Linked DNA regions of Homo sapiens. The protein of the gene in region 2 interacts with the protein of the main gene of each other region in a pairwise test. Each region holds a gene or a part of one and is shown on either strand. Other genes may lie near its edges.

Region 1 (4,149 bases), on a different chromosome or scaffold from region 2:
GACCAGGATGACCAGGCTGTTTCCCAGAAGACTGAATACAAACAGGAGGCAATAAAAGACAGCAAGGAGCAACTTGCCATTTGTCTGAATAAGTTCCGCATCACAGGGGCTTGAGAAGATATCAGGGTAGTAGTAGTCGGTCACTGTTGTCACACTGAGGTCAAGTGTATAATCCATCAAGGCAGCGGGACCTGGTCACAGAGACACATAAAAGACATTCACTCCTTAAAAACATTTTTATTTTTTAAAAATTAGGGGGATGTTATGGACTGAACTGTGTCCTCCCCAAATTCATGTGTTGAAGTGCTCAACCTCCGGTGTGGGTGTGACTATTTGGAGTGGGTGAGACTATTTGGGCCTTTAAAGATGTAATTAAGGTTAAATGATAGACCGGGAGCTGTGGCTCATGCCTGTAATCCTAGCACTTTGGGAGGCCAAGGTGGGCAGATCACCTGAGGTCAGGGGTTCAAGACCAGCCTTGCCAACATGGCGAAACCCCGTCTCTACTAAAAATACAAAAATTAGCCGGGCATGGCGGGTGCATGCCTGTAATCCTAGCTACTCAGGAGGCTGAGGCAGAAGAATCACTTGAACCGAAGAGGTGGAGGTTGCTGTGAGCCGAGATCACACCACTGCACTCCATCCTGGGCGACAGAGTGAGATTCTGTCTCAAAAAAAAAAAAAAAAATTAAAATTAAAAAAAAAAAAAAAAGGTTAAATGAGGTTATAAAGGCAGGGCCCTGGCTCTCACAGTGACTCACACCTGTAATCCCAGCACTTTGGGAGGCCAAGGTAGGCGGATTGCTTGAGGCCAGGAGTTCGAGACAAGCCTGGCCAACAGTGCAAAACCCCGTCTCTACTAAAATTACAAAAATTAGCCAGGCATGGTGCCACATGCCTGTAATCCAAGCTACCTCGGGAGGCTGAGGCACGACAATTTCTTGAACCCAGGAAGCAGGGGTTGCAATGACTCGAGATCAAGCCACTGTACTCCAGCCTGGGTGACAGAGTGAGACTCTGTCTCAAAAAAAAGAAAACAGAAACAAAACCAAAAAAGGCAGGGCCCTAATCTGATAGAACTAGTGTCCTTAACAGAAGAGAAAGAGACACAAGAAATTTTGCTCCCCTTGTGCATGGAGTAAAGACCATGTGAGGACACAGCAAGAAGGCTGAAATCAGCAAGCCAGGTAGAGAAGCCTCACCAGAAATCAACTGCATTGGCAGCTTGGTCTTGGACTTCCAGCCTTTAGAAGTATGTTAAACAACACTTTCTGTTGTTTAAGCCACTCAGTCTATTGTATTTTGTTATGTAAACCAAAGGGAGTCAGCTGAGATGAGAAAAGCCAAAACTTACAAAGAAAATGTAAATACCCATAGTTCCATCACCTAGAATTAGCAGCTGCTAACATATTCTCACAATGCTTTGGGTTATTTTTTTTTCCTTCCTTCCTTCTTTTTTTCTCCCTTCTTTTCTCCCTCCCTCATTCCCTCTCTTCCTTCCATCCCTCTTTCTTTTTTTATTTCTGATGCAATAGAGATGAAGCTAATGTTCCCTTTAACTACACAACTTATCCCCATAACAGAAACAACAACTAAAACCAATTTGGTATGTATCATTCCAAACAATTTCCCCCTGTACTTTTACATATTTATATATATCCATAAACAATATATATTTTTGTGTGTTTTAACTTACATAAATGATATATTGTTTTAACTTACATAAATGATATATTGTTTTTCCCTTTGTATTTTGCTTATTGTTTTAGAGATATATCTGCATGATATTCATCAGTTTATTCTTTTAATTGCTTTCCTAAGCACCAGAAAAAAAATAACTTTATAAATGCAATAGAAAAATGATCCCAATTATACTAGCAATGAAAATTACTAGCATTACTAGGAATAAAACTAATAAAAATGCAATTCAGTTACATAAAAATTATAAAACTTGACAATTCTTCTCAAATTGATATATACATTCAATGCAATTTCAATCCAGACATATTTTTCCAAGGCATTTGTTTGCTTTACATTCAGACACCCCTCTCCACTCTGCTACTTTTCTATGATTTGAAAGCACAAGCAAGCAAGCAAGCAATTTATTTATTTTTTTAGAGACAGGGTCTCACTATGTTGCCCAAGCTGGAGTACAGTAGTTATACGCAGGTGTGATCTCACACAAAGCCCTGACTTCTGGGCGCAAGCAATCCTTCTGCCCCAGGCTCTTGAGTAGCTGGGACTACAGGCACCCACCAGCAACTTCTTTAGTCATATGAAAGTTTGCTCGCTGGCTTCTTTCCTTAAGAACAGCACCCAGGTGTCCTTCAGTTACCTGATAGAAGCCCTGTACCCAGCACAAGGACAGATCTTCCCAGATGCCTGGTATTATAAAGGATCTTCTCTTATCTACCTTCCCACTCTTGTAGGAGTTTTCACTCTCTCCTAAAGGCCTGCAGAGAATATGGCACGGTTTGCTCTCCTCAGCCAGAGCATGGGCAGCCACTAAGACACATGCATGTTTGTGGGCTCTGAGGAAATGCAAAGATTTAAAAAAAAATTTTACTTCTTGTGCTAGACCTCTGAAATTTTGGTCTTCCCTTTGCCTATCCTCTAAAGATATAAAAATGCCCCTGCCTACTCATGCCCTTCTTCCCCAAGGATGCTTGTAGCACATACCTTAGTGACAGCCTTTGTTCTGGAGGTTTCAGTGTTGCCAATTCCTTCTTCACAAAGTCTGTATCCTCATGTGAGTGCAGCTCAATGAGCAGCAGCCTCTCTGGAGGTATCCTCCCACTACAAACAGCAGATGGAGAGAAGGCAGTCTCTTGAGGGCTCCACCCTCACACCTAGTCACCTAAAGGGAGGCAATGAGGGTTAAATGAGATCGTAAGGCTGAGGCCCTAATTCAATAGGACTGGTGTCTCCTAGGTAGAGGAATACACACCAGAGCTCACTCTCTTGCCTCCAGGTGCTCAGAGGAAAGGCCATGTGAGGACACAGGGAGAAGGCAGCCATCTGCAAGTAAGGTAAATAGGCATCACCAGAAACCAGACTTGTGGGCACCTTGGTCTTCTAGCCTCCAGAACTGTGGGAAAACAAATTTCTGTTGTTTAAGCTACTCAGCCTGTAGTATTTTGTTATGGAAGTCCTAGCAGACTAATACAGGGGTTAATGGGAATTTTCTGTGTTGTCTACCTAGATTTTCTGTAAACTTAAAACCTCTAAAAAATAGTCTATTAAAATTTTTAATTGAAATCAGTATTAAAATGAAATCATAATTCCATTATTATTTTGAAGTTATACAATTTATACCAGGACTGGCTTTCCTCCATGGTATGTAGCATACACAAATGTGTGTGTATGTTGTATGCATGTACATATATTAACTCTTTCAACAGGAATGCCATTTGAAAATCACTTTAAGTCAGTTTCCCCTATCCCAGGAGAGTGAACATGAGTCCCAGAATTGTTGGGAGGAAATGACAGAAGTTCCAGAATCTCCTCATCTCCAACCCACTCATTCCTGGAGAAATGCAGTAGAAATATCTGCTGGATGCCAGGTACGGTGGCTCACATCTGTAATTCCAGCATTTTGGGAGGCTGAGGCAGGAGGATTGCTTGAGCCTAGGAGTTCAAGACCAGACTGGTCAACATAGCAAGACCCCATCTCATACGGTTTGGCTCTGTGTCCCTACCCAAATCTCATCTTGAATTATAATCCTCATAATCCCCATGTGTCAAGGGCGGGACCAGGTGGAGTTAATTGGATCATGGGGGCAGTTTCCCCCATGCTGTTCTCATGATAGTGAGTGAGTCTCAAGAGATCTGATCTGATGGTTTTATAAACACCTGGCATTTTCCCTGCTTGCACTCACTCCATCCTGCCGACCTGTGAAAAATGTGCCTGCTTCTCCTTTGCCTTCCACCATGATTATAAGTTTCTTGAGGCCTCCCCAGCAATGCAGAACTGTGAGTCAATTTAACCTCTTTCCTTTATAAATTATCCAATCTTGGTCTTTCTTTATAGCAGTGTGACAACGGACTAATGCATCATCTGTACAAATTTTTTAAATAAAATTAGCCAGGCATGGTGGCATGCACTTGTAGTCCCAGCTACTTGGGAAGCTAAAGTGGGAGGATCACTTG
Region 2 (4,057 bases):
GGAAATCCTGGGGTGAGTGGAGTCACCCCACTCCCAGTTGCTGGCAGAGACTGAGACTAAAGCATCACTTAATAAACCCCCCAAGCCCAATCCCTGTCTCCTGGTGCCTGTCTGTACAGAAGTTTCATTGGGGGGTGGGGCACTGAAGATGGCATCCTGAAATGCATTTTGGAAAGGCTTCTTTGAAGTGGATGGAACAGAACAAGAAGCAGGCAATTTGAGTGAAGGCCCTGGAGATGGTTTGATAGGCACTGTCAAGTTCCTTGACTGTAAACTGAGGCGGTGCCTTTGCAGGGGTGATAGTGAAAATCTCTTGCCAGCAACATCGCTGCCTGGGGTTGGTTCGCTGTCACTAGCTGGGTCCTCTTCCCCAAGGGGGTGGGGAGGTGAGCCTTGAAACCAGCCTCTGGCCAGGCGTAGTGGCTCACGCCTGTAATCCCAGCACTGGGAGGCTGAGGCGGGTGGATCACAAGGTCAGATCGAGACCATCCTGGCTAACACGGTGAAACCCCATCTCTACTAAAAATACAAAAAAAAATTAGCTGGGCATGGTGGCGGGTGCCTGTAGTCCCAGCTACTCGGGAGGCTGAGGCAGGAGAATGGCGTGAACCCGGGAGGCGAAGCTTGCAGTGAGCCAATATCGCGCCACTGCACTCCAGCTTGGGTGACAGAGCGAGACTCCACCTTAAAAAAAAAAAAAAAAAAACCAGCCTCTGAGTCCTCAAGTGCCTGTCCTGCAAGGATTGGCATCTCAAATTGTATTCGGGGGGGGGGGGGGGGGGAGGGGGAGGTGGTGAGCCTGGTGAATCCCCCATGATAGAACCAACATTTACCAAAGGCAGTTTGCTCTGAGCCCTAGGCAGCACCAGGTGCTAAGAGGCAGCAAAGCATGGTGAGAGATGGCTTCTGAAATCTGTTCTGCATTTGGGGATTTGGGTTCCTCTGCCAGCCTAAGGCAGAGCTGTCCCCAACTGCTGGGAGAACCTGGAACGGGAACACTGCTCTGAGTCGCCGGGGGGACTCTACAGCACCATGGCCACATCCTGCCTTGGGCCCCTACCCTGTTCTAGCCAGTCAGCACAGGGAGTTTGGGTCGTGCTGGAGGAGCTGGCTGTGTGCAGGCGGCCGAGTGAGCTGCCTGCTAATGGGGCTGGGCCACCCCGTGCTGCTCCCTGGAGGCTGGACAAGGCTGGGATTGTTCCCTGGCTCCCCTTTGTCTCCCCACTCCCCGCCCAGGCCTGGCCCGCCTGCCTGGCCACTCTTCCTCCATCAGCCTGGCTGGCAGCAGCCTTGGACTCCGCCCGTGGAGCCCTGGGCCTGTTGACCCACCAGCTTAGGAGCACCCACCAAGCTCTGGGTAAGGAAGCTCACCTTCTGGGGCTCTTCTGGGAAAATAGAGGTAAAGCATCTTGCTCCAGCCACCCCTCCCCCATTTCCATAGCAACTGCACACACTCCACTCCAGAGATCTCCAAACCCTACTACTAAGGGAAGGCACCGTGAGGGCAGCTAGACCCCAGCGTATTCCTCACTCCTCCCCCAGATAGATGGGCAGCACTCAGGGTAGGGGAGACCCCCGACCATCCCACTTGTGGGAGCGAGCAAGGGATACCCTGGGAGGCCCTCATCCATCTTTGTTCTGCTGGGGTGCAGGGACTAGGGCCAGGTTTGCCTTTGCCCAGCAGGGTCTCCAGCACCCATCTCGGGCAGAGGCTGGGGGAGTGACTGCTGGTGCAAGCCCCAAAGTGCATGCGGCAAAAACATGGATGCAGAGCTGGTGGCAAGAAGAGGGGCTAAGTTATAGAGTTGCTGCAAAGTTTTGGCCTGGGGAGGTGGGGGGAGTGTCCTAGTCCTCCTCCTGGGGCGGCTCCGCCTGCCCAGCTGGCCCAGCCCCTCCACTTGTGCCAAGGAATGTGCCGGGAGAGGCGGGCGGGGCAGCAGAGCTGCGGCCACCCGGAGGCAGTGCACAGGTCTGGGGCTGAGGGATACCTGGGCTCAGGAGGGGCAGGGACCCCAAAATTCTCCTGGGGGCACAAGTGTAGTCCTCAGAGAAAAGCCAGGCATCCCCCTACCTCCTTGTCCCACCTGATGGCATCTGGCTTCTCCAGAGATTCGGAGTGCCAAGAGTGTTCTGTGCTCAGTTCAGGCGCTGTGGGCGAAGCACATTCTGGTGGGAAAGGGAGTGGTACTCAGGCTGTCTCTGTGCTGGCCTCCAGGAGTCAGGATTCTTCCTGAGACAAAAACTGGGGCCTGCGGGGCTGGATCACTATTTGAGGCAGCCTCCCGGCTGGGAGGACCCCGCCACTCTTTGCTGGGCTGAGGCCGCCAAGCCCCTCAGTGTGGGGACTGAATGCCCCAAGGAGAACAGGGGTTGGAGTTAAGTGGTGCAAGGGCTGGGGAAGGTGGACCAGCTTCCCCAGGCCTGAAGGAAGCAGCTCCAGGAGGGAGGGTGCCATCTGCCTCCCACACGCACAGCCCATCCTGCGGCTGAACCCAGGTGAAAGGGGCCTGTGGATGGGGGCAGTTATCTGATCCCCTACCTCCCACTCTGTCTCTAGGTCAACGTGGAGGTACCAGGCCACCATGCTCAGTCTCAAGCTGCCCCAACTTCTTCAAGTCCACCAGGTCCCCCGGGTGAGGGGCTCCACCCACTGACCCACCAACCCCCATTCCCTAGAGGACTGACTAGGGGCTGACGTTCTTCTCTTTTAGCTATTGGGGCAGCCCCTCCTGCAGGCGAACTCTTACCCTCCCATTCCAGTGTGAGACTCTTCCTCTGTTCTCTGAGGAACAAGCTTGTGGCCCTCCATCTGGAGTCCCCTTCCCCAGAGCGCCCTGTGTGCTGCGCTCCACCCCCATCCCACCCCAATCTGGCTCTTCGGTTTCCTATTTGTTTTGTGGGTTGTGGGTACTGGGACCTGTGGTAACATCAGATCAGATTTAGTTTGGCTTGGGGGCCACGTTGATCTCCAGCCCAGCCTCTTTGACCCTGCTTCCAGAGATCTCAGATGGAGGGAAAGGGTCCGGGCACAGTGACGCCCTTCCTCTCCCACCACTACCCTAGGTGTTCTGGGAAGATGGCATCATGTCTGGCTACCGCCGCCCCACCAGCTCGGCTTTGGACTGTGTCCTCAGCTCCTTCCAGATGACCAACGAGACGGTCAACATCTGGACTCACTTCCTGCCCACCTGGTGAGGGGAGGCTCCGCCCCAGGCCGCGGCCTTGAGCTCAGAGGGGGTACCCAGGCGGGCAGGGACCGTCCAGGCCCACGGGCTGCAGCGGCAGTCGCGGGGGTCCGCGGCGGCCTGAGCACGCGCCCGCCGCAGGTACTTCCTGTGGCGGCTCCTGGCGCTGGCGGGCGGCCCCGGCTTCCGTGCGGAGCCGTACCACTGGCCGCTGCTGGTCTTCCTGCTGCCCGCCTGCCTCTACCCCTTCGCGTCGTGCTGCGCGCACACCTTCAGCTCCATGTCGCCCCGCATGCGCCACATCTGCTACTTCCTCGACTACGGCGCGCTCAGCCTCTACAGTCTGGGTGAGCCGGACAGGCGCGGGAGCGCGGGGTCTGGGCGTCCCGGAGCGGGGCGAGGGGTGGGACGCGGGACATAGGGGCGCGCCCCTCAGGCCTCAGCTGCACGCCCCCACCTCACCGCAGGCTGCGCCTTCCCCTATGCCGCCTACTCCATGCCGGCCTCCTGGCTGCACGGCCACCTGCACCAGTTCTTTGTGCCTGCCGCCGCACTCAACTCCTTCCTGTGCACCGGCCTCTCCTGCTACTCCCGGTGGGTTCCCAGGCCCCTCCAGTGGGGACGGGGAAGGCGGAGGCACAGGAGAGGACACACCTCACTGCTCTCGAACAGCACTGGAGGCATCGGGACCATGTACTGAGGACTTCCTCTGTCAGACCCTTTATCCCCACATACAGATGTGGTCCTTTACACAGGAGGTCATATGCCCTAACGGTTTTCTTAGCTGCAGGCTGTGCTGATATTCCATCTTTGCCCAAGTCCTCTTGCCTTTCTCTGACCCCTACCCCAAGCACAGCGATGGTGACCGGCCT

What was found. Proteins that work in one complex are often made in the same cells at the same time.
Region 1: the proteins of PAQR6 (region 2) and CCR8 interact in a two-hybrid assay, tested with the Homo sapiens proteins (one large-scale study listed by BioGRID and IntAct).

Annotation. Positions count from the first base shown.
Region 1 is NC_000003.12:39,328,360-39,332,508, reverse strand, and holds the start of CCR8 (C-C chemokine receptor type 8), read right to left. Parts: upstream 2,801-4,149; 5' UTR 2,680-2,800; intron 192-2,679; 5' UTR 178-191; coding exon 1-177.
Region 2 is NC_000001.11:156,245,257-156,249,313, reverse strand, and holds the start of PAQR6 (membrane progestin receptor delta), read left to right. Parts: upstream 1-1,257; 5' UTR 1,258-1,357; exon of another isoform or gene 1,358-1,399; intron 1,400-1,681; exon of another isoform or gene 1,682-1,804; intron 1,805-2,557; 5' UTR 2,558-2,582; coding exon 2,583-2,633; intron 2,634-3,063; coding exon 3,064-3,191; exon of another isoform or gene 3,192-3,326; coding exon 3,327-3,532; intron 3,533-3,652; coding exon 3,653-3,779; intron 3,780-4,057. UniProt on the Homo sapiens protein: Plasma membrane progesterone (P4) receptor coupled to G proteins. Seems to act through a G(s) mediated pathway. Involved in neurosteroid inhibition of apoptosis. May be involved in regulating rapid P4 signaling in the nervous system.